Linked DNA regions of Homo sapiens. The main gene of each other region encodes a partner of the protein of the gene in region 4 in a complex. Each region holds a gene or a part of one and is shown on either strand. Other genes may lie near its edges. A codon is read from its position in the direction of its gene.

Region 1 (7,019 bases), on a different chromosome or scaffold from region 4:
AAGAAAAACCTTGGAACATAACAGAAAAGCTTTTGTATGTCTCTTTTTTTGTTTTTTTGTTTGTTTGTTTTTTTCTGTACATAAATATATGCCTTTCCCAATTTTTGTTTAGGAAACAAAAATTTCTAAACTATGCATTTTTGTAATAGTCTTTATTTCTTTTAGCATGTTGTAAACTTTCCCCATGTCAACAGATATTTTTCAAAACATTTTTATATCGCTTTGATTCATTTATATGGGTATATAATTGATGATAGTTGAAATAAGATTGGCAAAATATTATATTTGAAGCTCAAAATGGAATTCATTTTACTGTTTCCTCAGCTTTTGAGTGTGTTTGAAATATTCCAAAAGAAAAATCCAGACTTGAATGGTGTATTCCTGAGAGAGAGTTGCAATGGCCATCTCCACAAAACACCTGATGACTGAGGAATAGATGAGACGAGGGCAGATTTTTAGTCATAAAAAATGAGTTCAGATTGAGTTGAAGTTTTTGCCTACTGTAGATCATTAGATGGACTAATTTTTCATTTATGCATATGTCAAACTATAATTTTGCTGAGACATAGTATGGTTAGAAGGACGTAGTAGAACTTAAAGCTAGATAAATAATGAAGCACCATATTAGAAAGCTCTGAATTTCCATGTGATAAGTTTGTAGGCTAAAGGGGCAAATGCTTTAGGAAAATTTCGTAGCAATATGTTTGGTGTTTAAAGTAGGGAAGGTCTGAGTGAGAGATTGCAGTTAAAAGCTGTTTATTACTAAAGTGAAGGCCAGTTATCAGGAGGATCTGAACAGGGAAGGAAAATGGGCTGAAATCACAAGTTTGAGTTGACAGCTGAATGTTTCTAGGGAGTCAAATATCCCTAGGATTCAAATTGAGTTAACTGGGAGTGGCAAGTTGATTGATAGTAGTGAGGACAGAGAGACAGTCAAAGAAAGGTTTTAGCTCTGCTGAATATTTAGTCCCAAAGGAACATCCAGGTGGTGATGTCCAGTAGTTGGGAATGTAGAACTAAAGTGAAGAAGAAGGGAAACCAAAGAAAAAGTTGATAGTTTTTGAGACTACTGGAGTGGCTGTAATTTACCAGGGAGAGAGCAAAAAAGGGTGAGAGAACTAGTGGCAAACTTTGGTAACAGTTGCATATAAGGTGCAGGTGGTATAGGTGGAGAAAAAGAAGCTAGAGGAGAGGTGATCAGAACCAATTGTGTAAAGTGTTGTGGAAACTAAGAAAAAGAAAAATTTTAAAGAAAAGGAAGAAAAAGTTTAAGGATAATTGATAGAGCAAAGTCAGGAAGGAGACAGGAGGATTGGATCCAAAGTAAGTATACAGATAGAGGGATATTTTCTCCTCTGAAGTAAGATAATACTAAAAATGATGGTAGGGAGAAAAGGTAGCTTCATATTGATCTTTTTGGCAAATAAGGTGATAGCATGCACAGAGTAAAAGAGAGTAGGGAGAGTAGACTTTAGGGAAACAGGAAAGATTTACAGCTGATGTTTGAGAGACTTAGTTGTTTACAGACTGATCAAAAGAATGCTAAGCAGCCCTGAACACCTTGCCAAAGATGGATGGCTAACTTGATGCTAGATCCAAGCGGCAAGCTCAAGAGCAGGAAAGGGCAATAGTGGGGCTAGTAAAGCTGGGGATCAAAAAACATGAGGACGAGAAAATAAAATATTGGTAAGAACATCGTTGTAATCTTGAGACACAGGGTTGGATAGAAGAGCAAGTGGTATCAGGAGACCAACAGGACCATGAGAAGAAAAGAGGAATGATTGGGCCGGGAAGTTGCCTAAAAGTAGTGAGCAGACAGGATTGTAAGAGGTGAAAAATAGGAGCTTGTGATCAGAGACTAATTGAAAATGAAAGATCTTTGATGTGGACAAGTTCCAAGTGATGACCGAGTCTAAAGCCTGATCTTCCCAGACAGCTGAAGTAAGAGAGGACACAGGTTGAGGAAACCTGAAGTCAAGTTATGAGAAAGGGGTGGTGTTACTTAGATTTATTTAGGATGGCCCTAAGATCTTTGGAAAACAAAGAGCCTTCTCATTCTTTCTCTAAGTTCTACATAAAGGGATAGCTTGGGCAAGTGCTGTTTTAGAGAGTGTGGGAAGAGTGACAGGAAACAAGTAGCACCTTTAAGTGCTAACACACCTAGAATATCTATAGAAGCATACACTAGAAGCTACTAAGGTCAGGGAAGGGACAGTATGGCTGGGAGACAGAGGTGGAAAGAATATTTTTTACTGTACATCTTTTTATACCTTTATACCTTTCAAATTTTAAACTACGTGTAACAATTAAAAAATAAGAAAAATAAAAACAACGTAGATATTACAGATGCAGATAGTAACCAGCTTGTTTAACTTTAAAGCAGTTTATCCCTTACTTGTTCTTTCTGGTTTTGAAAAAGATGAATGTGATGGGTACGGTTGATAAAAAGAATCTGTAAAAGTACGTTATTCATAGTATAGTATTTTGCTACATTATTTTCAAGCACTGCTCTCTTAATTTGAATCTTTCATCATATGTCTTGTAATCCCTGGAGTATTTTAGAATTTCCTTCAGTGGAATCACAGCTTTCCCTCACTCTAAGTCTGATTTAGCCATTAATAGAATCCTTTAAATAGATCTCTCTCTGTTCACTTCTTCAGTTCAAACTGAGAGATGTCATCTAACCTAAGAAGAGATAGAAAGCAATTAGGAGTTAGCATCCTGGCACTCTTTTTGGGATCCTGTGTCATCATCTGGTTTGAAAAGGTAAACATCTCCAGGATATCAGCACATTCAGGGTTTGAGAATTAGCACACTGATTCATCCAAAAGCCAAATAAAATATTGTTGAGATTTTCCTATTATTCTTCTATTAGTTAAATAACCAGAGGTAATGGCAATTATATATATTTAATTAAATACATTTAACAAATGTAGTAATTTCTATTGCAATAATTTACATGTTTTCCCTTTTAAAATCTTAAACCAGGTGTGAAAATCACATCAACACTGCAAGTGTTGAAGCTTATCAAGCAGGCTGGTGACCGAGTCCTGGTGTACTATGAAAGGCCTGTTGGCCAGAGTAATCAAGGTGCAGTGCTGCAAGATAACTTTGGCCAGTTGGAAGAAAACTTTTTGTCAAGCTCATGCCAATCGGGTTATGAAGAGGAAGCTGCCGGGTTGACAGTAGATACTGAAAGTAGAGAGCTGGATTCTGAATTTGAAGACTTGGCAAGTGATGTCAGAGCACAAAATGAGTTCAAAGATGAGGCACAATCATTAAGTCATAGTCCCAAACGTGTTCCAACAACACTTTCTATTAAACCCCTTGGAGCTATATCACCAGTTTTAAACCGTAAATTAGCTGTAGGAAGTCACCCACTACCACCGAAAATTCAGTCCAAAGATGGAAATAAACCTCCACCCCTAAAAACTTCTGAGATAACAGACCCAGCACAAGTGTCAAAACCAACCCAAGGATCTGCTTTCAAACCACCTGTGCCACCACGACCACAAGCGAAAGTTCCTTTGCCTTCCGCCGATGCTCCAAATCAGGCAGAACCAGATGTTCTCGTTGAAAAGCCAGAGAAGGTGGTGCCACCTCCTCTTGTAGATAAATCTGCTGAAAAGCAAGCAAAAAATGTGGATGCCATAGACGATGCAGCTGCACCTAAGCAATTTTTAGCAAAGCAAGAAGTGGCCAAAGATGTCACTTCAGAAACTTCCTGCCCTACTAAGGACAGTTCGGACGACCGTCAAACATGGGAATCATCAGAAATTCTTTATCGTAATAAGCTAGGAAAATGGACAAGAACCAGAGCATCCTGTTTGTTTGACATAGAAGCCTGTCACAGGTACTTAAACATTGCATTGTGGTGCAGGGATCCTTTCAAGTTGGGAGGTCTCATCTGTTTGGGGCATGTTAGTTTAAAACTTGAAGATGTGGCTTTAGGATGCCTAGCTACATCAAACACGGAATACCTTTCCAAATTGAGACTGGAAGCCCCCTCACCTAAGGCTATAGTCACTAGAACCGCACTACGCAATCTGAGTATGCAAAAGGGATTCAATGACAAATTTTGCTATGGTGACATTACTATTCACTTCAAATATTTGAAAGAAGGAGAATCAGACCACCATGTAGTTACTAACGTAGAAAAAGAAAAAGAACCCCATTTGGTTGAAGAAGTTTCTGTTCTCCCTAAAGAGGAGCAATTTGTTGGACAGATGGGTTTAACAGAAAACAAACACAGTTTTCAGGATACTCAGTTCCAGAACCCAACATGGTGTGACTACTGTAAGAAAAAAGTTTGGACTAAAGCAGCTTCCCAGTGTATGTTTTGTGCTTATGTTTGCCATAAAAAATGTCAAGAAAAGTGTCTAGCTGAGACTTCTGTTTGTGGAGCAACTGATAGGCGAATAGACAGGACACTGAAAAACCTTAGGCTGGAAGGACAGGAAACCCTCTTAGGCCTGCCTCCTCGTGTTGATGCTGAAGCTAGCAAGTCAGTCAATAAAACAACAGGTTTGACAAGGCATATTATCAATACTAGTTCTCGTTTATTAAATTTGCGTCAAGTCTCTAAAACTCGCCTTTCTGAACCAGGAACCGATCTCGTAGAACCTTCACCAAAACACACACCCAACACGTCAGACAACGAAGGCAGTGACACGGAGGTCTGTGGTCCAAACAGTCCTTCTAAACGGGGAAACAGCACAGGAATAAAGTTAGTGAGAAAAGAGGGTGGTCTGGATGACAGTGTTTTCATTGCAGTTAAAGAAATTGGTCGTGATCTGTACAGGGGCTTGCCTACAGAGGAAAGGATCCAGAAACTAGAGTTCATGTTGGATAAGCTACAGAATGAAATTGATCAGGAGTTGGAACACAATAATTCCCTTGTTAGAGAAGAAAAAGAGACAACTGATACAAGGAAAAAATCACTTCTTTCTGCTGCCTTAGCTAAATCAGGTGAAAGGCTACAAGCTCTAACACTTCTTATGATTCACTACAGAGCAGGCATTGAAGATATAGAAACTTTAGAAAGTCTGTCTTTAGACCAGCACTCCAAAAAAATAAGCAAGTACACAGATGATACAGAAGAAGACCTTGATAATGAAATAAGCCAACTAATAGACTCTCAGCCATTCAGCAGCATATCAGATGACTTATTTGGCCCATCCGAGTCTGTGTAGCAGACAGGTCTATTTAAGCTTTCAAATGAACAGGGTAAAGTTGCATCTAAAGTACCACAGATACAACCATGTTTAAATCCTCGTATGCACTCTGGCCTGCTTCTCCAGTTACTTGCTTGTGTAAGAACAAAAATGAGAAAGGTTGTTTTCCAGTAAAAACATGACCAGCTTACTAATTGGTTGTTTTGGATTGCATTTATAGCTATGCTTTTTTGGGTTTATACTGGGAATTTATTTTTACTAAATTATTTAACTTTTCTAATTATGTAATTATGTAAGCTAGCTTTTCATGTTTATGTATGTATGGTGTCCCCTTGTGTTATTTTTCTTCCTCTTGGTTTTTGAATTAGTGTTAAATAGAATACTGTCTAGATTCTTAAAATATTTTCATTTCCATCATGGTTATAACAAATTTGCTGCATGCCCAAACTGACAACAGCAATCACTGAGGGAACAGGTTTTGAATCTTTCTTTTGTGTTATGAAGTTTATCGTCTCTACTTGCTTGAGATTTTTGTTATTTTGGGGGTTTGGGGGTGCTTTTTGTTTTGTTTTTGCCAAATGTAACATGAAAGCAGATGCTGCAGCTTTAGTCTGTTATGCTGATTTAGTAAAAAAAAATTTTTTACATATATTGCTTGCTTTCGATGCTTCTGTGAAATTTTTTTCTAAAGCTTTTGTGCAGCTGTATGGTAAAAATATGGTGATTAATTTGAAGAGCTTACATTGAAAGACAATGTAATAGGAAATAAATGTAGATTGCAGTTGGTCAAGAATTTTGTAGAGAGGATAACAAGACTTAATTACTGAAAAACAGTAACATAGCATTTTGAAATATAATCTTTTAAAATATTGATGCTTTCCTTTTAAATGGAAATTTAAATTTTATAATTAAAAGTTTAAACATTTATGATAATTTTCCTCATCAGTTCTCCCATAGGAAATAAAGCATGTGAAAGGGTATTTAAAGTTTTGGAGGACTCTTTTTAAAATGACTGTGTTGATAACTAGTTTGGGCTGGTTTTGTTTTAGAAAAAACATTTTCATGTAGGAGTATTCTGTGAAGGAAAGGAATCATGCAAAATATACTTTTTGCTTTGGCGTCTTACAGTTGTAAAGGAATGGTGATCATTCTGAATACTTCTGTAGTGAGTATTCATTAAGAAAAGAATGACAAAAATAGTATTCATACATAGGAATTGGGACCAGTTCTCTGAAAATGAAGATATACTCACACTGGGTCCATTTTACGGGTCCCAGTAACATTTGACTGAGGGAAAACAAGTAAGCTCGACTGTTGTTGGGGTACCTTAATGGTTTCGGTCTGTTATATACCTATAAAATAGACAAGTATATGTTTGTCCCTTTGTAGGTAACTGCTATGATGATTGCTATATAGTGAAACTGACATGAGTTTAAAACTAGATGGAGCAGCTTTTATTGCTGGCAGGAAAAAGCATGGTGTAATATTAAGGACTGGGGCCCAGGTCTAGACTCCAGGACTCCATAAAAGAGTTTAAGTTCAAGCCCTTCCATTAATGAACTGTGTAAGCATAGGCAGTTACAAAAGGACCCATCTCTAAAATGGGAATAATAATACTTTACCTCCCTCACAGTATTGTTGTGAGGGAAACAATAGCATAACTGCAAAAGTGCTTTGAACAGTAAAAAGATATACAAGTAAAAGGCATTATTTATATGAGTAAGAAAGACATTTTTGAGGGGAGAAAAGTTATTCCACTTTAAAAATCAATAGCCAAGTCTCATGCCTTTTGTTACTTTAGTAAGCGAAAATTTCAGGTACTAAATACCTTTCTTAGCCAAGTTT
Region 2 (7,893 bases), on a different chromosome or scaffold from region 4:
ACTCACCTGAATGTCAGATCAGCCTGTGGACTGAGCTCCATTCATAGGATAAGCAGTAGCTGAGCTCTGAAGGATGAAAGCCCATCTCTGACGTCTGTTGCCCACTCCTCCCCATCCCCTGCCTCCTCCATTCATTCATTCAACACAGATTTACCGTGTCCTGTGACGCAGGCACTGTGTTAGACAACAGGAACCAGAAGATGGCCCCAACAGAGTCCTGGCCTCAAGAAGTTCACTTTCCTTGATAGGAAGGAGGGCATGGTGGCCCGTGCCTGTAGGACCAGCTATATAGGAGGCAGAGGCAGGAGGATCGCTTGAGCCCAGGAGTTAGGGGCTGCAGTGAGCTATGACCATACCACTGCACTATAAACTGGGCAACAGAGCAAGACTGTCTCAAACCTATATATATATATATATATGTGTGTGTGTGTGTGTGTGTGTGTGTGTCTGTGGTGTGTGTATATATATACACACACGCATATATATATATATATATATATATATATAACCTTGATAGGGAGGAGACAGACATATGTGACAACCTATGTCCAGAACCACCTAGCCTGGAACTGGGACTTTTTTTTTCTTTTTTTTTTTTTGTAGACAGAGTCTCACTTTGTAGCCCAGTCTGGAGTGCAGTGGCACAATCTCAGCTCACTGCAAATTCCAACTCCCAGGTTCAAGTGATTCTCGTGCCTCTGCCTCCCAAGAAGCTGGGATTACAGGGGCTTGCCACCACACTAGGCTAATTTTTGTATTTTTTTTTTAGTAGAGACGCAGTTTCACCATGTTGGCCAGGCTGGTCTCAATCTCCTGACCTTAAGTGATCTGCCCACCTTGGCCTCCTAAATTGCTGGGATTACCGACATGAGTCACTGCACCCGGTTGGAACTGTCACTTTCTACTTGGAACTGAGCTCCCTTTCCAACACCAAAATGTGTCTTTCCCACAGCTCATTCCTTTGGAATTTGAGTTCGCAAATTCTTTGCGCAAAACATCTAACTTCTATTTCTGTAACTGAACTTGATTTGAATTCCCATTGTGCTGGGTGTCAGAATCTTAATCATGTCAGGTAATTAAGCAACCTCTTCTCCCTTCTTACCATAGGCTAGGGGAGAGAGTCGAGGCCCCAGATGGGACTGGAGTATTCTCAGTCCGAATAGTGAACACAGAGTCATCCTCAATCCTCTCTACTCTCGTGGTCTTGAGGGGCCACTGCTACCTCCTCCTGGTCCTGACCTTGAGGCTTCTCAGCACTGGCTTTCTCTGAATTCCTTCTGTGCACAAGTAAGTCATTCAGCTTCTTCCTGAACAATAAGGATTTCTCATCCAGATACCCCTGTTCCGTGGTTACTCTACTGTTACCAAACCATGCTTGACCCAGAGGGGAACTCTGCAAAGCTCACCACCTCCCCCAGCTTCCCCAGGGAGAAAGACACACACACCCTCTCCTCTGAGACCTCCAAACCTATGTGGGTATCTGTCGTCACTACCACTCCTGCCTGGTACCCGTGCACACCCAAGGACTGTGTTTGGAGAGGCAGATGCATTGAGGTCTAAGCGTTCTTGCATCCTTAACTTTGAAACCATAAAAGCATGTTCTTTTCTTTGATCTCTGGATGTTTCATTTTGTTTTTTGTCATCTCCCTCTTTCGATGCCTCCTGCAATGAATTGTATGTGGGAGGAAGGGAGAGGCAAACATGTACAAGGACACAGAGGTATCCTGGGAGAAACTGTGACTCATACTATAAAATATTAATCTCACTCACTTATATAGCACCTTGTACTTTATATTAATTAATTAATTAATTTATTTATTTATTTATTTATTTACTGAGGCAGAGTCTCACTCTGTCACCCAGGCTGGAGTGCAGTGGCACAATCTCAGCTCACTGCAACCTCCGCCTCCCGGGTTCAAGCAATTCTCCTGCCTCGGTCTCCCGAGTAGCTGGGACTATAGGCACCTGCCACCACGCATGGCTATTTATTTTTATTTTTTAGTAGAGACAGTGTTTCACCATGTTGGCCCTCAAACTCCTGACCTCAAGTGATCTGCCATCCTCGGCCTCCCAAAGTGCTGGGATTACAGGCATGAGCCACCACACCCAGCCAAAACATGTATTTCTCATGGAATAACTGCATGCACTAGAGCAAGCTAATTGGGAAAGTCAACAGTTTATGAAATAATGATGAGTTGCTGGCACCTGATGCACATTCATAGTCCCATTTAACTCTTCAAGTGAAACTCTCACTTGGCAGGAATTTACTATTAGCCATTTTCCAAATAAGAGATACAGACGAGAGAGTCTCTATCTCTTCTTTGGTGCAAGGAGATTGGTGCAGTCGGTGAATGGCAAAAGTGGATATGTACCCAGATCTGTCTCCAGTCCAAATTCCAACTCATCACTTCCCTTATCTGCCAGGCTGGATAAGGGAAGTGGTTCTGCTTCCAAACTTAATATGTGACAGATAAGGCAATCTAAACCAAAGTCTTCTTGAGTTTGGTCAAACCATATGCTGCCAAGGCTTGAATCCACATAACTGTAACAAGCCATCCCAACTATGCCACAACCCACACAACTCAAAGGCAAGGGAATCCCAGGCGACAAGGTCCAGGAACAGCCACTCTGGGGAGTCTGCCACCTCTGATATTGCTCCCGTGGCACACATGGTGCCCCATCTGCCTCCAGACCTGCGCTGAAGGAATGGGGGGAAGGGGCAAGCTTTGTAGGTGTGGGTGATCCAGTGGTCACTTGAGGTCTCTCAAACAAGGACTCTGTAGATGATGTTAATGGGCCAAACGGAATGCACATCTGCCCCTAAGTGTGTTTCTTTTCTTTCTTTTCTTCTTTCTTTCTTTTTTTTTTTTTTTTTTTTTTGTTGAGACAGGGTCTTGCTCTGTTGCCCAGGCTGGAGTGTAGTGGTGCAATCTTGGCTCACTGCAACCTCCACCTACTGGGTTCAAGTAATTCTTCTGCCTCAAGCCTCCCAAGTAGCTGGAACCACAGGCATGTGCCACCACTCCTGGCTAGTTTTTTTATTTTAGTAGAGACGGGGCTGGTCTGGAACTCTGGGCCTCAAGTGATCCACCCACCTTGGCCTCCCAAAGTGCTGGGATTACAGCTATGAGCCACCGTGGCCAGCCTTGTTTATTTCTAAATGAGGCTTCCTTTGTGTCTCTACATTTCCTTCTACAAAAAAAACTGCCATGGCACAGGGGCTTATGCCTACAATCCCAGCACTTGGAGAGCCCAAGGCCAGTGGATCACTTGAGCCCAGGAGTTCGAGACCAGCCTGGGTTAACATAGTGAGACCCCAGCTCTACGAAAAATTTAAAAATTAGCCAGCCATGGTGGCATGCACCTGTGGTCCCAGCTATTCGGGAGGCTGAGGTGGGAGGATCACTTGAGCCCCGGAGTTCCAGGCTGCAGTGAGGTCTGATCTGGCCACTGCACTCCAGCCTGGGCAACAGAGCAAAGTGCTGTCTTAGAATAAAATACTTTTTAAATAAACTAAAAACAAAACAATGGGCCTGGTGTGGGTGGCTCACATCTGTAATCCCAGCACTTTCGGAGGGCAGGTGAGGCAGAATAGGGAATGAGGGTAACCAAGGGTTAAGGCATAAACAAAAGAACAGCAGGTGCAGCCAGTTCTAGGCAAGATTAGGCAGCATAGAGGCCACGTGTTCATTCCCTCAATCAGAGGCTGATTGACGGACGACAGGGGGTTGGCCGGGGGGGAGGGTGACAGCTTCTGATTGACGGGGGGGCGGGTGCGCGTCTCCACTTCAGCCTCTGATTGGTCACAGGCCAATCCTTCAGAGGGTGTAACCAATCGGAGACCTCTAACGGGCACCTAGGGGCGTTACCTAATTCTTCCAGCTTAATGAAAATCCTAATGGGGGCTCTTGAGCTGTTTGCTCTGTCTTGCTCCTGCTCTGTGAGTTGTACTTTCGCTTCAATAAATCTGTCTATTCCTTACTCCGGTTTTTTCTTTTGTTTCTTTTCGTTGCTTTGTTCTTTTGTTACTTTGTGCATTGCATTTTGTTCAGTTCTGTGTTCAACAAGCCAAGAACCTGGGCAATCCACGGTCAAGACCTTCCATCCAGTAGCAGAGGCAGGAGGATCCCTTGATGCCAAGAGTTAGAGAGCAGCCGGGGCAACAAAGTGAGACCCTGTCTCTACTATCTATCTATCTATTTTTTAATTATCTGGGCATGGTAGTGCATGCCTGTGGTCTCAGCTACTCCTCAGGCTGAGGTGGGAAGATCCCTTGAGCCCAGGAGTTGAGGCTGCAGTGAGCTATGATGGCACCACTGCACTCCAACCTGGGTGACAAAGCGAGATCTTGTCTCTAAATTAAATTTAAAACAATACCACCAAAACAACAACAGGCTGGGCGGTGGTGTCTCACGCCTGTAATCGGAGCACTTTGGGAGGCCGAAGTGGGAGACCATTTGAGGCCAGGAGTTCGAGAGCAGCCTGGGCAACACAGACCCCACCTCTACAAAAAAATAAAACTGGCCTTGGTGGCGCGCGCCTGTAATCCTAGCTACTTGGGAGGCTGAGGCAGGGGGATTGCTTGAGTGTCGGACGTTGAGGCTGCAGTGAGCTGAGATCGCGCCACTACACTCCAGCCTGGATGACAAACTGAGACCCTATCAGAAAAAACAACAACAACAAAAAAACAGTGCCCGCTCGGTTTTTCCTGAAACGCGCAGCCCTCGCCTGTAGCCAGGAGAAAACTCCGCGAGCCAGCAAAACACAAACTCGGCCAGGAAACAGACAACAAGGCCACCCGGGGGTGCCTGAAGAGGACGCTGCGAGGCGGATTCTTTTTCCGGGCCTGCGGCGAGTGCTTCCGGGGCGGTGGCGACGGAGGCGGAAGTGCGGTGTTTTAGCCGGTGGCTGCTGTCTCTGGGCGGGCCGTGGGAGGCTCCCGAGGTGGGGGCCGGGGCGGGATGGCTGCAGCGGCGGCCGGGGCCGGGAGCGGGCCCTGGGCGGCCCAGGAGAAGCAGTTCCCGCCGGCGCTGCTGAGTTTCTTCATCTACAACCCGCGCTTCGGGCCGCGCGAAGGACAGGTATGCGGAGGGGGCGGCGCGCGGGCGGGCGGCGCCGGTGTTCCCCGGGAAGGTGGCCCTGTGGTTCTGCCCACCTCGAGGGGCACTGACCTAGCCTGCATTGTGCCAGGTGCGAGTCCGGGCAGGGGGCTGCGGCGGGGACCTGACAGCAGGCAGGGACCGCTTCAGGTCCTAGGTCGATGGAATAAAGCCCCGTCGGGTCTATATCACTCCACACCCCAGGTTGAGGCTCTTTGCGCTTTGCTTTGCGTCAGTTCTGGGAAATTAAAATTGAACTTGGCTTTGTTAAGTGGGTAGTCCCCAACTAGAAGCGTGGAACCAGGGTGGCAGACGCTAGCCTTCAAATGATGCAAGCCTGGAGGTCCCTGTAATAGTTTTCGCCCAAATGAGGAAATAAATTAATTTCGGGAGGGGTGTGTGTGTGTGTGTGTGTGTGGTTTTTCTGAGGTGGGGACGGCGACTTTCTCAAAGGATGTCCGGAGCTGTGTTTTGTTTCCAGCAAGTCAGACTTCTGTTAAAGACTGTCCAGGCTGGGCGCTGTGACTCACGCCTGTAATCCCAGCACTTTAGGAGGCCGAGATGGGAGGATTGCTTGAGGCCAGGGGTTCCAGACCAGCCTGGGCAACATAGCAAGACCCCCAACTCTACAAAAAAAAAAAAAAAATTGAAAAGTGAGCCGGGCGTGGTGGCACGCACCTGTATTTCCAGTTACTCAGGAGGCTGAGGCCAGAGGATCGCTTGAGCCCAAGTGATTGAGGCTGCAGGTGAGCTGTAATAGCGCCACTGCACTACAGCCTGGGCAGCACAGACCCCATCTCCAGAAAAAGAAAAAAAAAACAACTTGTCAGTTCAAATGGCTGGGAACTGACTGGATTTAATTTTCAGGGAGCTATGTGTCTGCAGATGGGCACACCTTTACTTCTTACAAGCATTGGTGTATTACAAATTAGCACTAGGAAAGAAACCTGGAGACTTGAGTTTTCATAAAAATTACCTGGTGCTACTTCAGATGTGACTTCTTGACTATCGAAATTGCCTTTCTGACTGGTGGGCAGTATTTGCACAATGATGAGATCATTCCTGTTCTTCTTCTTATTTTAAATAATAGAGACGTCTCACTGTGTTGCCCATGCTGGTCTTGAACTCCTGAGCTCAAGTGATCCTCCCGCCTCAGCCTCTGAAAATACTAGGATTACAATTCCTGTTTTTCTAAAACCGGTTTTTGTTTTATTTTGTCATTAGCATGTGTGACACAAGAGGTCGACATTGAACTTAGCGTTTTCAATAGCTAAGATGAAATGTTTCTATTCATGTTGTGCTTCTGTTTCCTCATGTTTCAGGAGGAAAATAAGATTTTATTTTATCATCCAAATGAGGTAGAAAAGAATGAGAAGATTAGAAATGTCGGATTGTGTGAAGCTATTGTACAGTTTACAAGGTAATACCTCTAAGTGTGCCTTTAGCGTTCAGTGAATTCTTAAAACTGCTGCTGGAGAATTGTCCCAAACATATTTTTTTAACCTTTGTAGGACATTTAGCCCATCAAAACCTGCAAAATCTTTACATACACAGAAGAACAGACAGTTCTTCAATGAACCAGAAGAAAATTTCTGGATGGTCATGGTATTTACACACACAGTGTATCTTTCTGAAATTGTATGGTGAAGTTATGGGTGATCTTTACTGTTCAGAATTTAGGAAAGTTCTCTGGCTGTTGCATCCAAGTAAAATTAAAATAAAATTGGTTGCAATTTTAAAATCAAGTTCTTCCTATTTGCTTTATTCATTCTTGGGGCTGTTTTAAGAAGTTGTGTTTCTGGTGCTGTAGCATGTTCAAAGTTTTTAAATTAAGGCAAAATAAACATGGTCTAATGAATTCATTGTATAATTTCAGTTTATCAAACTTTGTAGGTTGTTCGGAATCCTATAATTGAAAAACAGAGTAAAGATGGAAAACCAGTTATTGAATATCAAGAGGAGGAGTTGTTGGTAATGTGTCATTGTTTGTTTATTTATTTATTTTTTTAAATGTATTGCTGAGTATGTTGAATGCCTTACTTGGTCGGATTTAAACTAGGAGGCTTTTGCAGAAGTTTCTCGGGGTATATAGCAAAGGTTTATGTTTATCATTTACATGAGCACAATCTTTTTAAAATGTATATGCACCCAATCTCACTAATACCTTCTACTCTTCATCTATATTGAAAGCCCTCCTAAAGTAAGGCTTACTGATTGACAAATTAGAGTTTAAACACTTCTGGCTGGGAACAGTGGCTCACACCTGTAATCCTAGTACTTTGGGAGGTCAAGGCAGGCAGATTACTTGAGGTCAGGGGTTCGAGACCAGCCTGGCCAATATGGCGGAACCCTGTCTCTACTAAAACTACAAAAACTGGCCAGGGATGGTGGCGCACACCTGTCATCCCGGCTTCTCAGGAGGCTGAGGCAGGAGAATCGCTTGAACCGGGGACGCAAATGTTGCAGTGAGCCAGGATTGTACCACTGCGCTCCAGCCTGGACAACAGAGCGAGACTCCATCTCAAAAAAAAAAAAAAAAAAAAAGAACGCAAACACTTTTTTTCAGCACGCAACTATTGTGGGATGAAGTTTATAAACATTATACTGTTTGGCCAAGAGTCAGTGTACCTTTGCCATCTATCCAGTAGACATTGTTTTTCCCTTGAACTGAGCTGTGTGCTGTGTTTTCGCGTCTGCAGGACAAGGTTTATAGCTCGGTGCTGCGGCAGTGCTACAGCATGTACAAGGTAAGCGTGGCGTTCTTTCTCAACTCAGAGTCCAACCACTTACCCCT
Region 3 (7,019 bases), about 69 Mb from region 4:
CTTCAGACTGTCCCACACTCTGACTGACAACTGGCTTCAGACTGTCCTACGCTCTAACTCGACACCTGGCTTCAGACTGTCCCACACTCTGACTGACAGCTGGCTTCAGACTGTCCCACGCTCTAACTCGACAACTGGTTCCAGACTGTCCTATGCTCTAACTCGACACCTGGCTTCTGACTGTCCCACACTCTGACTGACAACTGGCTTCAGACTGTCCTACGCTCTAACTCGACACCTGGCTTCAGACTGTCCCACACTCTGACAGCTGGCTTCAGACTGTCCCACGCTCTAACTCGACAACTGGCTTCAGACTGTTGTATGCTCTAACTCGATACCTGGCTTCAGACTGTCCCACACTCTGACTGACAACTGGCTCCAGACTGTCCTATGCTCTGACAACTGGCTTCAGACTGTCCTATGCTCTAACTCGACAACTGGCTTCAGACTGTCCTATGCTCTAACAACTGGCTTCAGACTGTCCTACACTCTGACAACTGGCTTCAGACTGTCCTACGCTCTAACTCGTCAACTGGCTTCAGACTGTCCTATGCTCTAACTGACAACTGGCTTCAGACTGTCCTACGCTCTAACTGACAACTGGCTCCAGACTGTCCTACGCTCTAACAACTGGCTTCAGACTGTCCTACGCTCTGACTGACAACTGGCTTCAGACTGTCCTACACTCTGACAACTGGCTCCAGACTGTCCTACGCTCTGACAACTGGCTCCAGACTGTCCTACGCTCTAACTGACAACTGGCTTCAGATTGTCCTACGCTCTGACAACTGGCTCCAGACTGTCGTATGCTCTAACTGACAACTGGCTTCAGACTGTCCTACGCTCTAACTGACAACTGGCTCCAGACTGTCCTACGCTCTAACAACTGGCTTCAGACTGTCCTACGCTCTGACAACTGGCTCCAGACTGTCGTACGCTCTAACTGACAACTGGCTTCAGACTGTCCTACGCTCTAACTGACAACTGGCTCCAGACTGTCCTACGCTCTAACAACTGGCTTCAGACTGTCCTACGCTCTGACAACTGGCTCCAGACTGTCGTATGCTCTAACTGACAACTGGCTTCAGACTGTCCTACGCTCTAACTCGTCAACTGGCTTCAGACTGTCCTACGCTCTGACAACTGGCTCCAGACTGTCCTACGCTCTGACAACTGGCTTCAGACTGTCCTGTGCTCTAACTGACAACTGGCTTCAGACTGTCCTATGCTCTGACAACTGGCTTCAGACTGTCCTATGCTCTAACTCGACAAGTGGCTTCAGACTGTCCTACGCTCTGACAACTGGCTTCAGACTGTCCTACGCTCTAACTCGACAAGTGGCTTCAGACTGTCCTACGCTCTGACAACTGGCTCCAGACTGTCCTATGCTCTGACAACTGGCTTCAGACTGTCCTACGCTCTGACTGACAACTGGCTTCAGCCTGTCCTACGCTCTGACTGACAACTGGCTTTAGACTGTCCTACGCTCTAACTTGTCAACTGGCTTCAGACTGTCCTACGCTCTAACTGACAACTGGCTTCAGACTGTCCTACGCTCTGACAACTGGCTCCAGACTGTCCTACGCTCTGACAACTGGCTCCAGACTGTCCTACGCTCTAACTGACAACTGGCTCCAGACTGTCCTACGCTCTGACAACTGGCTCCAGACTGTCCTATGCTCTGACCACTGGCTCCAGACTGTCCTACGCTCTGACAACTGGCTTCAGACTGTCCTACGCTCTAACTGACAACTGGCTTCAGACTGTCCTACGCTCTGACAACTGGCTCCAGACTGTCCTATGCTCTAACTGACAACTGGCTCCAGACTGTCCTACGCTCTGACAACTGGCTCCAGACTGTCCTACGCTCTGACAACTGGCTTCAGACTGTCCTACGCTCTAACTGACAACTGGCTCCAGACTGTCCTACGCTCTGACAACTGGCTCCAGACTGTCCTACGCTCTGACAACTGGCTCCAGACTGTCCTGTGCTCTGACAACTGGCTTCAGACTGTCCTACGCTCTGACAACTGGCTCCAGACTGTCCTACGCTCTGACAACTGGCTCCAGACTGTCCTACGCTCTAACTGACAACTGGCTTCAGATTGTCCTGTGCTCTGACAACTGGCTTCAGACTGTCCTACGCTCTGACAACTGGCTTCAGACTGTCCTACGCTCTAACTGACAACTGGCTTCAGACTGTCCTGTGCTCTGACAACTGGCTTCAGACTGTCCTACGCTCTGACAACTGGCTCCAGACTGTCCTACGCTCTGACAACTGGCTCCAGACTGTCCTACGCTCTAACTGACAACTGGCTCCAGACTGTCCTGTGCTCTAACTGACAACTGGCTTCAGACTGTCCTGTGCTCTGACAACTGGCTTCAGACTGTCCTACGCTCTGACAACTGGCTCCAGACTGTCCTACGCTCTGACAACTGGCTCCAGACTGTCCTACGCTCTAACTGACAACTGGCTCCAGACTGTCCTGTGCTCTAACTGACAACTGGCTTCAGACTGTCCTACGCTCTAACTCGACAAGTGGCTTCAGACTGTCCTACGCTCTAACTGACAACTGGCTCCAGACTGTCCTACGCTCTAACTCGACAAGTGGCTTCAGACTGTCCTACGCTCTAACTGACAACTGGCTTCAGACTGTCTTACGCTCTAACTGACAACTGGCTTCAGACTGTCCTATGCTCTAACTTGCTCTAACTCACTCTGACAACTGGCTTCAGAGTGCCCTCTAGTCAGGGAAGGCCCCTCCGCCAGGTCTGTCTGCCCGAGTCACATAAGCAGTCTGGGCAGAGGAGTGCTCCGAAATTCCAATTTCTTACTCGATACCCGATTCCTCATTCATTCACTAATGTTTTTAGTGAAGGAAGAAATTCTGCTTTTGCCCTCAAGTGCTATCTACAGCTTCCTAGCTGCCATTGCCACGTTTGAGGCTCCAACTAGACAGATAACCTGGGAAATGGGAAGAGATTAAGAAAGTACATAGTGAGGGCATGAACGGAGAGACGGTTATAGCTTTGACACTGCGATAACAAGAAGTGTGGTAATTGTGGGAAGCCCTATATAACCAGGGGAGGGGACAAGGAGAGGAGACGAGGGGAGGGGATGGGGGGAGGGGACAAGAGGAGGGGATGGGGGGAGGGGACGGGGGAGGGACGAGGGGAGGGGATGAGGGGAGGAGAAGGGCAAGACTCTAAGGTGGCCTTTTCCAAGGTCTTACCCGGACTTGATTGAGCAGCTTGACCTTCCTATAGAGGGCACTGTTTATGTCCTGCACGTTGAAGAGAGGATCATTCCAGATCTTAATGAGCAGGTCCTTGGAGAAGTTGCTGACGTAGTACTTGCTGAAGTCCCACTTGCGCAGAACCCGGCTGGGGATGGCCATCTGGGCATTCTCGTGGCAGCACTGGCAGAAGTACTTGCCCAGGTACTCACAGTACCGCAGTCGCTTGATGTAATCTGGAAAAACCGGAAAGCCAGAAAGCCAGATGTAACTTTCCCATCTACAAGCTGGGAAGGCAGCTCTGCTTTTCCCTTGAAAGGGCAGAGAGGGACAGCCAATGGCCTCCAGCAACCTCTGTCTGAGTTCCCCAAAGCTTGCAGAAATCCACATAGTGGATCCTGGGGTGATAATGTCCTACCTTGGAGGCCCTGAGGAAATAAAACCAGCTGGAGATAGTAAGATCCCGCCTTACCAGCTAGCTGGAACTACCCAACTTTCCACAGGATACAATCCTGGCCATGTGCTCCCAGAAATCATTTCCCTCCGATTGCCAGCACTCTTGCCTACTACGAACCTTTCTTTCTCCTTCCCTACTTCTGCCACGCCACCTCCTGCTACCGCCTTTGACACGCCACCTCTCCCTACGTGTCGGGGAGGGTACAGAGCCTCTGGAGGCAGCATGGTGGGAAGGGAAGGCACTCACCAGGGTCAGTCCGGATGCCACATCCTGCACAGCGGTAATTCTGCTTGGCCACGGCAATTTTCCTCCTGAGGAAGGGTAAGGACAGGGCATTGGCACAGAGCAGCTGCGTGAGACCTTGGAGGTGTGAAGGAGTGAGCACACATACATACAGCTCCAGTTAAGTATGGGAAGAGAGGGGAATTCACCTACATTTTAGTTGGACAAAAATGAACCTATTGGGAGAGCTAACTCCATATAAGATTTAGGTCTAGGCAGTCACTCTGCCCAGTAAGGAACCACACATTCTGTACAAATATAAGGAATGAGATGTGGTAAAGGAGAGAGAATGACAGGAGAGAAGAGCATCCATCTATCTTAGAAAGAGAAGAAAAACCAGCAAGCCCACACAACTACTGGGAGGAAAGCTACAGGTTGGGAATGCCAGCAAAACAAAACCCGCCTCGTTTCCAATTAGCTCCAGGAATTAAGAGTAAGAAACGAAGGACCAAATGGACGACGCCCCCCCTCTGCCTTTAAATGAAGAGAACGGTGTGGGAAGGACAGCTGGAGGCAGGGACAAGTGGGTGAGACGAAAACCCTGACAATCCAAAGAGGACGGATCTGTGCTCCAAAGGGCACAGACACTGGCCACTCACGTTGGGGCTGGATGAACATTAAAAATTATCTGAGGCCGGGGCGGGGCCCACTCCAAGTTGCCACGAACACGAATCCGCAGCTTGTAGATGTCAGCGTGCTGCCCGTCATCCGGTGAGATGGGCAGTGAGTCAGGAATGGGCAGGAGCTGCAGGAGGAAAGCACAGTTGGGGTAAGCTCGTGTCAGTGTGCTGCCCGTCATCTGGTGAGATGGGCAGTGAGTCAGGGATGGGCAGGAGAAAAACACAGTTGGGGTAAGTTCACACGGACGGGCTTGAGAAACAGAAATGCGGGACCCTTTTGGCCATGACAGAGCATAATGAGTGAAAGACATTTCAGGAACACCACAGGATAAGGGCTTCAGGGAACCTCAGAAACAACCAGGAGGCGCCAAGGTACTACAAGTGAGGGCCGTGGGTTCCAAGAAGCAAACAGAAACAGCCTACCAGGGCAGTGGCCCCACGGCTCATGCTGTCCCTGCACCCATCCCAGGACCCTTGCTGTGCCAGTGTGTTTCATGCCTTAAAGACAACTGCAGAGCAAAGAATCCAAGCGATTTACTTTTGCGTAGTGTCTCCGAGGTGGTCACAAACCAAACATGACTGAGTCTGGCGAGCAGTCACGTGAATAAGGACCGCGAACGCGCCGTCATCTCTGCTCTGACAAGGTGAGCAAGCATTCACTCGTTCATTTATCACTTGACACATTGTAATGAATGGCTTCCACGAGTAAGGGGGGAACACCCAGGCTCATTCCAGACTAGGGACATGTGACGAAGGAAAACAAGGTCACAGAGGCTCACGATGGCCCCTGGGTAGGAAGAAGAGCTAAGGACCTACCTTCTGAGGGGCATCATGCTCCGGGACAAGCCACTCCAGCTCCGAGGCGGCTGGAAGCTGCATCCCCTCAAACTGCTTCAGGAGCCCCATGGCCACCGCCTCAGCAGACGTGGAGTGCAGGAAGCAGTGGGAGCTGGAAAGGGGAGAATCAAGGACGGCTGAACACAGGGAAAGGATGGGCGATGCGAGGCTTCCCTTCATGATCTCATCCCCCACGCAGCAACTTCTGGGCTGGAAGAACACCCGCAGCACCCTGGCCTGCTCATCACCCTCACACATGGGACAGTCAAAGTCCACTAGTCTCACGGTCCTAAGACTTCGGTTCAAGCCCCACTTCCTGCCACTGCACGGCACTGCTAATGAAGGACTCTGTCACTTCCTTTCTCTGAACTTCAGCTCCTCTAACAGCAAAATGGAGATTATAATGCCTGCTTACAAAACAAAGTGAGTAAAATTGCTTTGTGGACTACAAAGCGATTTTTCCTCCCAAATGAGCTACTGTGTCCCCTGGTTGGGTCTATGATGTGGAATCTGTTCAATTTGATTTCATAACCAAAAACCATCATCACTGCTCTCTTTTGAGACCTTCTGGGGCCTCTGGTTATGATGAGAGTCAGCAGAGAAGGAATAACTCACTTCCAGCTTTGCCTCCACGAGAGCCCATCCCACTGGGACCAAAGAGCTTCTGCTTTCTTCCCGTGGGCTCGGCACCATCAGCAAGCCCCTCCCTTTAACCTCGCCTCCTCTTACATCTGGATGGCTTTGCCCAGCCATACACCAAGAACTGGGTTTGTTTCTCTACATATCCTAAGGTTTTCTTTTCTTTTTTTTGGTAAAAAAAAGTACTCACAAGGACTGGGAGGAAACGAAGGATTTGCTGCTTGAGGCTGTGTTCCTTCTGATGTCAGCATCTACATGGAAACCAGAGATAAGGGGAGCGCAATGGAAACGGGGTGGGTAAGGGAACCTGGAATCTATTACAAGGTGCTCCCAGCTAAGCTCTCAGGGTAACAGCCAGGTGCCACACTCTATGCAGGAGAAAGGAGCAGGTGAAGCTCTAAACACAGGTTATAATTTGCCTCTATCCAAATCAAAACCAGGCTGAATTAGTAACATTATGCATAGCACTGAAAAGGTCAAAGTGTTACAAACTCAGGCAGAAAGACAAACTCAGCTTTGGTGTAAAACAGTGAATGAGAAGACGAGCATCCTAAGGCACACAGGGACACAACCCCTCATATGCACAAACACAAAACAAAGGACTCAAATCTCTCCCTCACTCTCCACATCTTAACCTTTCTCAAATGGTAAGCTCCCTTAGGCAGTAACTCTGTCTGGCTTATATATATATACATATATATATACACACACACATATATACACATATATATACATATATACGCACACACATATATGTGTGTGTATATATATACACACACGTATATATATACATATATAAAAAACATTTAGTGCCTAACACATAACTGGGATCATAGAGGTTCTCATGAAATATATGTGAAATTGGAACTTTGCTTCTAATATTTCACCACTGTTGCCATTACCCCGAATGTTAGAAGTGTCTGCAGTTTTGCCTCTAACATGTCATCA
Region 4 (7,019 bases):
ACGTGTGGGTAGAGACTCAAAGGGAAGGAAACAAACATGAATTCTATCATGTAGGAGTCTGGAGGTTGAAGTGTATTTCCTGTTTTTTTTCTTTTTAATATTATTAAACAGCATTGGTACACCAGTGAAACCTATTAACAAAGCAAGTTATGCAAATCCCTTTTCCCATTCTTAAAATCAGTCACTTTCATAAATATTCTCCAAATATCTTTGCATATCCTTTTATCATCTTTTTATCTATTTTCTTTTTTTTTCCTTTTTGAAAAAGAGTCTTGCTCTGTCGCCCAGGCTGGAGTGCAGTGGTGTGATCTCAGCTCACTGCAACCTCTGCCTCCTGGATTTAATCGATTCTCCTGCCTCCGCCTCCCGAGTAGCTGGGACTACAGGTGCGCACCACCACACCCAGCTATTTTTTTGTGTATTTAGTAGAGATGGAGTTTCACTATGTTGGCCAGGGTGGTCTTGAACTGCTGACCTCAAGTGATCCACCTGCCTCGGCCTCCCAAAGTGCTGGCATTACAGGTGTGAGCCACCACACCCAGCCTTTTTTTCCCTTCCCCACCACTCACTGCAACCTCTGCCTCCTGGGTTCAAGCGATTCTCCTGCCTCAGTCTCCCGAATAGCTGGAATTACAGGCACCCACCGAGCTAATTTTTATTTATTTATTTATTTATTTATTTATTTATTTATTTATTTATTCATTTGAGACAGTGCCTCGCACTGTCACCCAGGCTGGAGTGCAGTGGCGTGATCTCGGCTCACTGCAACCTCCGCCTCCCGGGTTCAAACGATTCTCCTGCCTCAGCCTCCTGAGTAGCTGGGATTACAGGCGCGTGCCACCATGCCCAGCTAATTTTGTTTTGTTTTTTGTTTTTTTGAGACGGAGTCTCGCTCTGTCGCCTAGGCTGGAGTGCAGTGGCGCAATCTCGGCTCACTGCAACCTCCACCTCCCGGGTTCAAGCCATTCTCCAGCCTCAGCCTCCTGAGTAGCTGGGACTACAGGCACATGCCACCACGCCCAGCTAATTTTTCATATTTAGTAGAGACGGGGTTTCACCGTGTTAGCCAGGCTGGTCTCGATCTCCTGATCTCATGATCCGCCCGCCTTGGCCTCCCAAAGTGCTAGGATTACAGGTATGAGCCACTGTGCCCAGCAATTTTTGTATTTTTAGTAGAGACAGGGTTTCATCATGTTAGCCAGGCTGGTCTTGAACTCCTGACCTTGTGATCCACCCACCTCGGGCCTCCCAAAGTGCCGTTATTACAAGCATGAGCCACCGTGCCCAGCCTTTTCTATTTTTAGTAGAGACGGGGTTTCACCATGTTGGCCAGGCTGGTCTCGAACTCCTGACCTCATGATTTGCCTACCTTGGCCTCCCCTTCTTTCTATTTGAAACTTGCCCCCATTATCATCATCTGATCTCTATCTTGAAATATGATACCAGACCTTAGAGTGTGACATTTAAACTTTGACCAGTCAAAGCGGTCCCTGGGGAGAAAGGTAGGGGAATAGTGGGGCTCCACATATAATGGATAGTTTGGGGTATACCTCTCAGTGCTGATTATGATGGAAGACAGAACTCCAAGTCATCTTATACTGCCCCTAACTAGCACTAGTAAGAACTTTCTAGATGAATGCTGGTGGGCTGAGATACCGTGTCTTCACAGTCCAGCCATGGGCATGAGGCTTTTGGCAGAGAAACAGCTTGACCCTCTGCATAGGTCATGGGACCTGGGGTGTGTGCCTAGCAAACCATCCTCTAGTCTGGCTCCTATTCCCATACTGTTCTTGTAGCCAGAAACAGACTCTGAAGCCATCGAGGATGGTTACTTTCAAGAGCGTAGGCCTTCTTAGCAAATCCTGCCCTTTAGGACAGTAGTCAGGTCTGATATTTCCTTTTAGTTAGTGGTCTTGGGTGTAATACCACCTCTTGAGAAAGAGAACAATTGACAGCCAAGCATCTGGAAAGAGAGGGATAGCTGGATTACCTTGCCTAGGAGCTGTAACCTGCTGCTTCTCTCACTGTCTTCTGGACTCTGTGTTCTGTTACTCATCTCTGTATTTGGCATACCTTAAGATGGTAGCGGCCAGTATTTACTAGTCATCTGCTGTATTCTAGTTACTGTCCTGAGCATTTTATTTATTCAGTCTTCACAGCATTCTTAGGACATAAGAGCTGTCATCTCTATATTCCCTATTCCAACAGAGAAATTAAATGACTGGCTCAAGGTCATATAGCTAAATTAATAAGCGGCAAAACCAGAATAGAAATCCCTGTGGCCTGGGTTCATATCTGCTGCTTAAGTCACTCCCACTATAGGCACTGCTGTCAGCCTTGCCTTCAAAAGGTAGGTGGTTAAAGAGGAAACTAACAAGTAGTTCTTCTGAGTCCCATTCATTTTCTGGAAGTCACTGAGTCATACCCTGGCAAATGAGAGGCAATTACAGCAGGAGCCCTGTCTTGATGAGTAGATAGACCATGCTGTGGCAAGTCCTGGAAGACAGTTGAGCAGAGATCAGGCATTTTTCACATCTTCTGGTTATGAGTAGACAAGGCTGCCTGAAAGATTTTCTGGAAAAGAGTAGTCACTAGAGCTGCAGAGTCAAGTATTCAGACGGTACCCAACATTTAATAAATTTCTACTTGGCATTGAGTATACAGTGGGGAGTAAAACTGTCTTCATGGAGATTGTTAGAAAAGGGATAGACTAGATTAATATAGTACATAAAAATGTCAATTAGTGGTAAGTGCTCTGAAGGAAAAGCAAGCAGAGTAACGGGATAGAGAGCAAATGAGGGGTTATGCTGCTTTAAATAAAGCGGTCACTTCTTTGAGAAAGTGATACTGAAGCAGCGACCTGAATGAAGCAAGGACCAAGCTGTTGAGTAAGTTGGAGCATTAGTTCAAATTGCCAATCCATTCAATTGATCCACCACCCAAGTGAGAGAATACATTCTCTCCAACAGCTTGCAGGGGCAGGATGGCCCTGCTGTGCTGTTCTGCCTCGCTCTTGGGTCCAGAGTTTTGGTGAGTGATACTGTTTTTTATCAGTGCCCCCTGGTGGAAGGAAGATACCTAGCAGGAAGGTTCAGGGCCCTGCACTGTTGGGGCTGCTCAGACATTTGTGCAAGGGAGGTGTTTTGTTTTGGTGTTTCCATCACACTCACAGTGATTTCTCCTTTTCCCCCTTTAGTTTGAAGGATGACCTCTAGGAAGAAAGTGTTGCTGAAGGTTATCATCCTGGGAGATTCTGGGTAAGTTACTCATGAATTTGAGCTAACAGATTGGCTTAGAGCTAAGCCTCTCTGCTGTGGAGCCCACACTGTCCGTGCTGCCACTTCTTGCTTTCATAGTGAGGCTTAGGGCCTTACATGTTTCCCTCCACGGCAGAAATTTAGATGATCCCTTGTTATATAACCTTTTGTTCTCTAGTTTTTAGCATGATTTTTTATGGGGAACGGATGGCTATTTGAACTCAACTAAGGATAGGCATTTTCATGGAATCCCTTTTCTCCAAGCTGGCCAGGCTGGGGAGTCTTCCTTACGTAGATGTATTGCCATTGGCATCTGGCGTAGCAGATGTGCTTTTTTTTTTTTTTTTTGGAGACAGAGTCTCGCTCTGTCGCCCAGGCTGGAGTGCAGTGGCGCGATCTCGGCTCACTGCAAGCTCCGCCTCCCGGATTCACGCCATTCTCCTGCCTCAGCCTCCCGAGGAGCTGGGACTACAGGCGCCCGCCACCACGCCCGGCTAGTTTTTTGTATTTTTGGTAGAGATGGGGTTTCACCGTGTTAGCCAGGATGGTCTTGATCTCCTGACCTCGTGATCCGCCTGCCTCGGCCTCCCAAAGTGCTGGGATTACAGGCGTGAGCCACCGCGCCCGACCCAGATGTGCGTTCTTAGTGCACCATACAGTATCCTCCTGCTGCTGTGCCTGCTTCAGATCTATCTGCAAAAGAGCCTGGGACGGCAGAACTGGGTTCTGATTCTAGATGTGCCACTAACCATGTAGCTAACTCTAATGGCTCTTAAGATTCTGTGGTAGGTTGGGTGAGGTGGCTTATGCCCATAATCCCAGTGCTTTGGAGGCTGAGGGGAGGATTGCTTGAGCCCAGGAGTTGGAGACCTGTCTCTACAAAAAAAATTTAGCCAGGTGCCGTACCTGTAGTTCCAGCTGCTGGGGAGGCCGAGGCGAGAGGATGGCTTGAGCCCAGGAGTTTGAGGCTGTAGCAAGCTATGATCATGCCGTTGCACTGCAGCCCGAGTGACAGAGCAAGACCCCAACTCTTAAAATAAAAAGATTCTGTGGTAGGCTTTTCAGACTTGGCATCTGAAGGGACCCATGAAAGCTTTGACTCATTGGAAGCTTATGTATTTTTAAAAATAACAACAATAGCAAATGCAGGTATGCTTCTTTATTCCAAAGTCCCCTGCCCTTCCTTTGAAAAGCCAGAGGTTTTTCTGTCTTGACTGGCTTATTTGAATCACCTGCAGAACCTTTTTTTGTATGTGTGTGAGAGACAGGGTCTCGCTCTGTTGCCCAGACTAAAGTGAATGGTGCAATCACAGCTCACTGCAGCCTCAACCTCCTGGTCTTAAGCCATCCTCCCACCTCAGCCTCCAGAGTAGCTGGGACCACCAGTGTGTGCTACCACTCCTGGTTAAATTTTTGTATTTTTTATAGAGACAGGGTTCTACCATGTTGCCCAGGCTGGTCTCAAACTCCTGGGCTCAAGCAGTCCACTCGTCTCGACCTCCCAAAGTGCTGAGATTACAGGCTTGAGCCACCATGCCCAGCCTTTGAAGAACCTTTTGTTCGCTAGCATTTGCCCAGCCCCAGACCAGTGGGCTAGGGCCTAGATTTGTGCTCTCTCTCCTACCCCGCAACTCCATCCCCGTCGGGATGGAAAGATAGTGCTTTTAGGCCTGCCTTCCCCAAACTTGTGCAAAAAGTCTCACCAAGCCCTTGTTCGATTCCAGGTTTTGCCACCTCTCACCTTGTAGATTCTGGCTTAGATGGTCTGGGTTGGAAAACACTGCCTTCGGCTGTCTAGGTACCTCCAGGTTCTTTAACACAAATATGAACATGTTCCTTTGTGGCCAAGAAAGGTGATATCACTGGCTATGGGGGGGAAGGTTTTTGTATTAGCTTTAGGTTACCTTAACCTTATCACACAAAAATCACACATTGTCTCTTGCTGAGTTTTCTTACTAGAAAACATATTTGGAGGAGCATTCTTTGAGGTGGATTTGTTTTGGTGATATATTGGTGCTTTTTCTGCTTCAGATTTTAAACTTTAAAGCAGCAAATTGTCTGAGTGGTGTGTGTCTGCTGAAAGCCAAGGTCTTCCTCCTGGTGTTACTTCATCAAGCTAAATAGCAGCCACTAAATGGAGAAACATCTAAGATAGCAGGGATACTGTTGGAATAGCAGAACAGTCTTAATAGTGAAGCTTCTTTTAGAAAGCAGTATATTTGCTGGCATCCTTCTAGAATGGAAAAAATAATACTAGGCTCTACCATTTGACCTGGCTGTGCCAAAACATGTAAGCAGCTTTTCCACATCTGCCCCACATCTGTACCCTATATTTTTACCCAGAGAGAAAACACAAAACTTCAAAAGTGTAATGCTCGGAAGGCTACTGGCATTGCCCTTTGCTGTGAGGGCAGTTTCTTGTCCTTCAGGTCAGGCAGATTCTTTTAAATGCTTCAAGTAATTCGTGTCAGTTTCAGGACCCTCCTATTTGACTTATACTTATGGTTTTTCTCCAATTTCAGAGTCGGGAAGACATCACTCATGAACCAGTATGTGAATAAGAAATTCAGCAATCAGTACAAAGCCACAATAGGAGCTGACTTTCTGACCAAGGAGGTGATGGTGGATGACAGGCTAGTCACAATGCAGGTAAGCACATGTCTTGGCTGTGCTGACCAGGCCTTGATAGTTCATTTAGTCTTAATCTTTCCTCATGCATAGACATTTTCCTTCCCTGTTCTTCAAATCTTATTATCTTATTTGTAGATAATTGGCTGATACTCAGTTAAATTTGAATTTCAGATCAATAGTGAATACTTTTTTAGTATACTTCTAGTGTATCTCAGATACGACTTGCTAAGACACACTAAAAAATTCTTCTTAAAAAAAAACTCAGATTTATCCTTTCTTGTTTTTTGTTGTTTTTGGTTTTGTTGTTTGCTAAATTTGGCAACCTGCAGGTCTCTGTCTTGTGCCTCTCTTGACATCCTTGCCCAGTGCTTTAGGTAAACATCTTTGTCTCACCTCAGTAGTGAGACATAAACTTTATTTTTCTGACTTCCTATTTCATACGTAACTTCAAGAGTTGTGTGTCTATTGAGCCAATCTTTTTTTTATGTATCAGCTTATTAATCTTTCAAGGGTTCCCTTTCAACAGTTAGGATAAGATACAGATTCTTTCATATGACTTGTTGAAAAGCCTTCACATTCTGGCTATAAACTATTATTCCCTTTTTTTCCCCCATTGAGTCATTTTGTTTGTATACATGTATTAACATCCCTAGAAAAGAAACCCCTGAAGGATGGATACCTTGAGCCCAGGAGTTTGAGCCTGCAGTGAGCTGTGACTGCTCCATTATACTCCAGCCTGGGTGATGGAGTGAGACCCTGTCTCTAAATTTAAAAAAAAAAAAAAAAAAAAAAAAGAATCCCAGGATTTTCCCTCCTGTATTTTCATCTCTTTCTTCATGGTCCATGATGCCAGCTGAGGTTGTCAGTACAACCTCACTTTGAAACCAAACTATTGGGATAGGAGTAGATTATCCTGTCATTTTTCTAGATCTTTGAGTTGCACATCACATCTGGGGCCAATCATTCCAGGGGCAGTTTTAACCTGCCTGTGAGGTTTACAGTAATTTTCCCAGCTCTGTGATGACCAGTGATTTCAAATTTTCAATGTGATCATGTTTCATCTTCACACTTAGAACCAGACCATGACTTGGGAGCACAGCCTAATAAGAACCTGGTGTTTGCCCTTGAGAG

What was found.
Region 1: the proteins of RAB7A (region 4) and PDZD8 are in contact, whole or in part, in a crystal structure (PDB 7F6J), measured with the Homo sapiens proteins. Residues at the interface, in NP_004628.4 of Homo sapiens: Lys10 (codon at 3,232), Leu14 (codon at 3,244), Asp16 (codon at 3,250), Ser17 (codon at 3,253), Lys38 (codon at 5,838), Ile41 (codon at 5,847), Gly42 (codon at 5,850), Ala43 (codon at 5,853), Asp44 (codon at 5,856), Phe45 (codon at 5,859), Gln60 (codon at 5,904), Trp62, Gly66, Glu68, Arg69, Phe70, Gln71, Ser72, Leu73, Gly74, Val75, Ala76, Phe77, Tyr78, Arg79, Thr98, Ser101, Trp102, Glu105, Phe106; in NP_776152.1 of Homo sapiens: Ile999 (codon at 4,722), Lys1000 (codon at 4,725), Leu1001 (codon at 4,728), Val1002 (codon at 4,731), Arg1003 (codon at 4,734), Lys1004 (codon at 4,737), Glu1005 (codon at 4,740), Gly1007 (codon at 4,746), Leu1008 (codon at 4,749), Asp1009 (codon at 4,752), Asp1010 (codon at 4,755), Phe1013 (codon at 4,764), Ile1014 (codon at 4,767), Lys1017 (codon at 4,776), Gln1044 (codon at 4,857), Leu1051 (codon at 4,878), Asn1054 (codon at 4,887), Asn1055 (codon at 4,890), Val1058 (codon at 4,899), Leu1077 (codon at 4,956), Leu1084 (codon at 4,977), Gln1085 (codon at 4,980), Thr1088 (codon at 4,989), Ile1092 (codon at 5,001).
Region 2: the proteins of RAB7A (region 4) and CCZ1B are in contact, whole or in part, in a cryo-EM structure (PDB 9L0D), measured with the Homo sapiens proteins. Residues at the interface, in NP_004628.4 of Homo sapiens: Ser17 (codon at 3,253), Lys21 (codon at 5,787), Tyr37 (codon at 5,835), Lys38 (codon at 5,838), Thr40 (codon at 5,844), Ile41 (codon at 5,847), Gln67, Glu68, Arg69, Phe70; in NP_932765.1 of Homo sapiens: Glu38 (codon at 5,073), Glu41 (codon at 6,422), Lys55 (codon at 6,464), Asn56 (codon at 6,467), Ile59 (codon at 6,476), Arg60 (codon at 6,479), Gly63 (codon at 6,488), Leu64 (codon at 6,491), Ala67 (codon at 6,500).
Region 3: the proteins of RAB7A (region 4) and RUBCN are in contact, whole or in part, in a crystal structure (PDB 6WCW), measured with the Homo sapiens proteins. Residues at the interface, in NP_004628.4 of Homo sapiens: Ile41 (codon at 5,847), Gly42 (codon at 5,850), Ala43 (codon at 5,853), Asp44 (codon at 5,856), Trp62, Gln71, Ser72, Leu73, Gly74, Val75, Ala76, Phe77, Arg79, Ser101, Asp104, Glu105, Ile108, Gln109, Ser111; in NP_055502.1 of Homo sapiens: His818, Asn821, Met822, Lys824, Thr825, Arg827, Leu883, Gln885, Ala886, Lys887, Gly888, Phe889, Ile890, Glu892, Gln895, Glu897, Ile900, Pro903, Cys915, Lys916, Arg931, Arg934, Arg938.

Annotation. Positions count from the first base shown.
Region 1 is NC_000010.11:117,281,441-117,288,459, reverse strand, and holds part of PDZD8 (PDZ domain-containing protein 8), read left to right. Parts: intron 1-2,660; coding exon of another isoform or gene 2,661-2,689; exon of another isoform or gene 2,690-2,766; intron 2,767-2,988; coding exon 2,989-5,192; 3' UTR 5,193-7,019. UniProt on the Homo sapiens protein: Molecular tethering protein that connects endoplasmic reticulum and mitochondria membranes. PDZD8-dependent endoplasmic reticulum-mitochondria membrane tethering is essential for endoplasmic reticulum-mitochondria Ca(2+) transfer.
Region 2 is NC_000007.14:6,823,266-6,831,158, reverse strand, and holds the start of CCZ1B (vacuolar fusion protein CCZ1 homolog B), read left to right. Parts: upstream 1-4,883; 5' UTR 4,884-4,961; coding exon 4,962-5,081; intron 5,082-6,421; coding exon 6,422-6,519; intron 6,520-6,610; coding exon 6,611-6,704; intron 6,705-6,992; coding exon 6,993-7,070; intron 7,071-7,798; coding exon 7,799-7,846; intron 7,847-7,893.
Region 3 is NC_000003.12:197,677,896-197,684,914, forward strand, and holds part of RUBCN (run domain Beclin-1-interacting and cysteine-rich domain-containing protein), read right to left. Parts: intron 6,323-7,019; coding exon 6,262-6,322; intron 5,545-6,261; coding exon 5,412-5,544; intron 4,721-5,411; coding exon 4,575-4,720; intron 4,005-4,574; coding exon 3,940-4,004; intron 3,473-3,939; coding exon 3,234-3,472; intron 1-3,233.
Region 4 is NC_000003.12:128,792,164-128,799,182, forward strand, and holds part of RAB7A (ras-related protein Rab-7a), read left to right. Parts: intron 1-3,196; 5' UTR 3,197-3,204; coding exon 3,205-3,257; intron 3,258-5,779; coding exon 5,780-5,906; intron 5,907-6,677; exon of another isoform or gene 6,678-7,019.